2 separate regions of the Homo sapiens genome follow, and region 1 is linked to region 2. The links come from fine-mapping of genetic effects on gene expression. Tissue or cell type: whole blood. Region 2 holds a variant in brackets; the other region holds the start of a gene. All regions are shown on one strand. Distances are between the middles of the regions.

Region 1 (2,611 bases), 110 kb after region 2:
AACCTTTATTGCCTTCGCTTAGTGCCTGGAACACAGTAGGCCTTTACAAAATGTCAGATCTATGAATACTAGCTGACATTTATTGAGGCCTTCCCCTGTGCCAGCCACTATGCAAAAAGTGCTTGACATACTTCTAAAATCTCAATTTATAGGTGAGGAATTAAGGATACAAGATGCATTTCTATAGTAGAGAAGCAGTAAACTGATAATGAATTAATTGAGGTGAAGTCTGAGTTATTTGAAGATTTTCAGTTATTTTTGTGAAAAAATAAGTTTATTGAAATTCACGACCAGAACACAAAAATAATCTCTCTTGATTTTCTTTTTAAAATTTTTTAAAAAACTTTTGTTGACACGTAGCAGATGTATATATTTACGGGGTACATGAGATGTTTTGATACAGGCATGCAATGTGAAATAAGCACATCACGGAGAATAGGGTATCCATCCTCTGAAACATTTATCCTTTGAGTTACAAACAATCCAATTACATTCTTTAAGTTATTTTAAAATACACAATTAAGTTCTTATTAACGATTGTCACTTTATTGTGCTATCAAATAGTAGGTCTTATTCATTCTTTCTATTTTTTTGGACCTATTAACCATCCCCACCTTCTCCCGCTCTTGATTTTCCTTTGCATGCATGTATTCATAAAGTTTATTAGTATTTTGCAAATCTTTGTAGGATAAGTCTGACCTGTCCAGGTCACAATTATAGGGCACATATCTTATTTTCTGAGAGAAGCAGGGATTTTATTTTATTTTTTATTGTTTCACTTATTTTCTCCCTTTCATTTGCCTCTACTTCGTTCTCTTTTAAATCTTTCACATGTTTTCATTCATTACTTGCTTCCTGCCTTCCTTCCCTCAAACAAGGCCAGGTGCTTAGTTTTGAAATCTCATTCAAAATGGTGCCACGTCATCTGCCAGGGCCAAGAATCCAGAGGTGCTGTCATATTTCTCCTTGCCAGCGTGGATCTCCTCCGAGCCCCGCCCTCCCTCCTCACCTGCTCCTGGGGAAACTACACCAAGGCCGCCGCTCTGGCCTGGGGCTCCCTCCCACACGGCCTTGGCCCTCTCCCCCTCGCCCCGGGACCGCTCCGCCCCTCCCGGATCCCGGTCGGCGGAGCGCATTTATTTGCATATTTCTACCTTTGTTCCCTGCCAGCGGCCAATCAGCGCGCGGGGCGAGACGAAGGGGCTGGGCGGGGCTCGGGCTCCTGCTCCGGCTCAGCTGCGGCGGCCGCAGGTTCCAAAGCGGGTCCGAGCCGCCGCCGCGCGCGCGCCGCGCACTGCAGCCCCAGGCCCCGGCCCCCCACCCACGTCTGCGTTGCTGCCCCGCCTGGGCCAGGCCCCAAAGGCAAGGACAAAGCAGCTGTCAGGGAACCTCCGCCGGAGTCGAATTTACGTGCAGCTGCCGGCAACCACAGGTTCCAAGATGGTTTGCGGGGGCTTCGCGTGTTCCAAGAACTGCCTGTGCGCCCTCAACCTGCTTTACACCGTGAGTATCCCCAGTCCGTTCCTGCTCGCTTGGGGGCTTTGCACCTGCTTGGGAGCTCTTTGGCTTCCCTGCCTGGTCAGCGACTCACTCGTTGCATCCCGCGCCCCCTTCCCGGCTTCCCACGTCTGCGCGCCCCCGGCCTCACCATCCGTCCCCGCCGGGGACCGGGCGCCGGCGCTTGTCGCAGTCTCTTCCTTTCGTTCATTGTGAAGCCGCGGTCTCTCAGGCTCGCTGGCCGCGTCTCTGCCACATTGCTCCACCCCGCCCCCTCACCCACCGCCTTGTTTTTCAAACATTCAACCGGACCTCTCCGCTTTCCCACCCCGTACCCTTCTGCCGCTCGCTCCTGACATCCAGACGCATCTGGGCCAGGCGTGGAGGCGCGAGAGCCGTCAGGGCTTGCGGACAGTTTTGCGGAATGGCGTGGCCTGAAACTGACGAGGCGGCATATGGCTGGTGTGCCTCTGGGTTAGCTCTTGGTACCCTCGGGATTTTAATTGAGGCCACTGAGTAGGTTCACAGGATGTCCGCTGCTTCCGAAGTTTGTTTCGTGCTCACAGTAAAGGGATGTCTTTTTGTTTTTGTTGTTGTCAGTTTTGCTAGTACTTGGTGCTTTTTCTGTGTGTCTTGTCCATGATCAATATCCTAACTCCATTTTAAACCAAGTCCTCCAGGAAATAAGCGAGCCCCCACCCAAGTCGTTTCTTTCCCTGCCAACCAGCTTGGGCCTCTTAGTTTTAACGCTGCAGGCTCTCTTTGTGATTTTTTGAGGCGCAATTCTGGGTGAACAGGAGGATGGGCAGGACAGATCGACATTTATTGAATGCCTATCACGTCCCAGGTTTTACATACACAATGCTCGTTCATCATTCTGACAACCTTCTGAGGGAATGGGGCATTATCTGCATTTTATACATAAGGTAACAGACCAAAAAGGTTTTAGTAAGTTTACATAGCTGGTAGTTGACGAGTCAGGAGTGGAACCTAGGCTGTGGAATCCAGATCTTTCCACAGGCTGTCTCTACCGGGCGGAAGAAACTTCCTCTTCTGTCATCATCCCTCCATAGTAGTCTTGCTCCCTTCTATAAATATACCTGGCGCTTTGCAG
Region 2 (2,759 bases):
TGCACTCATGCAACTTGATGCACCGTGTGAGCCCAGAAATATCACAGCACTAACCAGAATAAATGCACATTAATTCAGGTTTATATAATCTTCAAAATAAATACTGATGGACACCTGAGAATGTATCCAAGGAATCCCTTCTCCCCTCTCAAAGACTCAATTTATAAAACTGCTCACTATTTTTCACTTTTAAGAGATCACATGATGGGCCAGGCCCAGTGGCTCATGCCTGTAATCCCAGCACTTAGGGAGGCCGAGGCAGGAGGATCACTTGAGCCCAGGAGTTCGAGAGCAGCCTGGGCAACATAGGGAGACCCCCACCACCCCATCTCTACAAAAAAAAAAAAAAAATCTTTCTAAAGTAGCCGGGCATGGTGGCTCGCACCTGTAGTCCCAGCCACTAGGGAGGTGGAGGCTGCAGAGAGCTGCAACTCCAGCCTGGGTGAAGAGTGAGATCCTGTCTCAAACAAACGAGAGAGAGAGAGAAAGAGACAGCGAGAGCGAGAGAGAGAGAGGACATGTACTAGCTCTGTCCTGCCTAAAAGAATTTTTGTCCCTGGTGGATTGTGAATTGATCCTTTGTCTCCTTTTTGCCCAGCACAGTACCTGGCACACAGCTAGAACTTGCATGTTTGCTTAATTGAATCCCAGAGCCATCAAAGGCAGGGAGAAATTACCTAGAGACAGGAAGAACTGAAAGACTGAAATGCCAAATAGGTCAGCAAGAACCATGCAGTACAACAATCTAAACTCTAACCCAAATCCCCAAATTCCAGGCAAAGAACACATCATTGATAGATATAGCTGTGACTGACTTAGAATAGTTGAGATCAGATCGGGTGGGCTCAGCTCATCAGCACCTGTTGAGTTCAAACCGGAATTTTTTCTCCTTCGCATGTGGAGTTTCCTTGTCGCTATGAAGAATAAATCTGCCTTATTCTCTAGGATTCCACATTTCAGCCTGGCTACTAAGTAAATAAAACTGGAAACTGGGAAGCCTTATGCTGCAATGACTGGCATCTCTGCCATTCGAGGACAAACATGGCTATATTATTATTGAGTTTAAAATCACCACATTAATTGCCCGGAGTC[G/C]CACGCATCACCATCCCTGCACCGTGAGGGTGCAGAAGAAGCATGCAGTCACGCTGATGTCACCTGCCAGGTAACGGGACTCGGCAGGGAACTCCTCTGGGACGTCCACTCGGGGACTCCGGGGAAATATGGCTTCTGGCTCGTCCTCGGGGCTCCCCGCTGGGACTCAGCACTGCGGAAGTGGGGCACGCCTTGGGGGAGTGGACAAGAAAGCGCGAAGGAGCGCGATTAGAAGGTCTCATCTGTGCAACGTGGGCCGAGGGGTGGGTGTGGAGGCCTCGCCAATTTCCTTGTCTCTCTAGGGTTCCTGAGGCTGTCGGGGCTTCTGGAAGCCAGGGAGGCCCTGGATACGGAAGTCTCAATGCAGCAAATTACAGACCTAGTTCTGTACCCTTATGAAGAACCCCTCTCCCTAAGGGCGCCCTCCACTCCCAAGCGGGGGCGGGGATCGGCAAAGGATCCAGATCATTCGGCCTGCGGAAGTCTAAAGGGTCATTTAGACACCCGCCTAAGAACCTGAAACTACCAGGACTGACCGCGGTCAAAATCCCTCGGGAGCAGTGAAGAATTCACACACTGGGGTCCACACCCCGGGAAGCTCGCATTAACCTAAGGCGGGGCGTGGAAATCCGTACGTTTCCAAAAGCGGATTTAGAGGCCGAGCCTCTGTAACTACCCCTCTTGTCCCAGCACTGCTTCTGCCTCCCCACCTCTCCGCCCCTGCAACCTTTCCCAGACCAAAGGGAGAAACGCTCTTTCCCGGTTCCAGGCTGCAAACCTTGCAGAACCGCAGCCAAAGGTCACCCAGGCCAGGAGCGCCCCCCGGGCTCCGCCACGCCCCCCGGCCAGGCTGGCCGCGGCCGCGTCGCAGCCCAGCACCCGTACCTTTCCCGATGACTTCCAGTAGCTCCTTCTCCTCCTGGGTCAGCTCGCCTTTCTTTATGTGAACCATTGCTCCCGCCAGCTTGAAGGTTATTCCCTTTCTTAGGGAGTATTAAAAAAGAAACGATGCGTCTGTATTGGGAACGCCAGCCGCAATGAGGCAACTTGAGACCAAGACACTGAGTAGCCAACCGCGGAAACGCTTCGCTTCTCTCCTCCCTCCCGCGGGCTGGCGGACAGCGGGCGAGCTCGGGCGAGCCAGGCGGACGGTCTCCGCAGGCCCTGCGGCGGTCACCGCCTGCCGCCTGTCATTGGCCCTGCCGAGGAGGAGGAGCCGCAGGAGGCGGTAGCGAGAGATCGCCATTGGAGCAACCTGGGAGGACAAAACCAAATGCAGAAAGCTGGAGGGGGGAATTAAATTCCTCCTACACGTTCCGCTCCCCTATCCTGTCCGGTTCAAATATTTCGCCACATGTAATATTGAAAATTCTACAGCTGGCAGTTATGTGCTCAGCGACGGCTTTCTGGGGCATGCAGAGGCCCCAGGTTGTCGCCGTACCCCCACCATTCCCCCGGGAGTGGCGCAGTCTGGGCGGGGGCGGTCTAGGAGACGGGGGCGGTACGGGAGGCGGGGCTGCGCCGGGTTCCGTGTGTCTATGTCAATGTGTCTGTCCTTCACTCCTCCATTGTCTGCCGCCACTGCTGCTGCTGCTGCTGCTGCCGCTGCTGCTGCACGAATCGCCGCAGCCCCCAGCCTTGCGCGTCGTCGCTACCTCCTCGGACAG

What was found. PIP is the estimated chance that this variant, and not a neighbour inherited with it, causes the effect.
Region 1: it holds the start of TSPAN13, and the variant in region 2 is fine-mapped to the expression of TSPAN13 in whole blood (TOPMed, PIP 0.94).

Annotation. Positions count from the first base shown.
Region 1 is chr7:16,752,528-16,755,138 of GRCh38, forward strand. It overlaps TSPAN13 (tetraspanin 13), which reads left to right and starts at 1,228. Exons shown (of 6, transcript NM_014399.4): 1 at 1,228-1,503. The coding sequence starts at 1,441.
Region 2 is chr7:16,643,530-16,646,288 of GRCh38, forward strand. It overlaps ANKMY2 (ankyrin repeat and MYND domain containing 2), which reads right to left and starts at 2,225. Exons shown (of 10, transcript NM_020319.3): 1 at 1,978-2,225. The coding sequence starts at 2,044. It overlaps BZW2 (basic leucine zipper and W2 domains 2), which reads left to right and starts at 2,652. Exons shown (of 12, transcript NM_014038.3): 1 at 2,652-2,759. RefSeq lists an enhancer at 2,352-2,631. The variant G/C (reference allele first, on the strand shown) is at 1,093.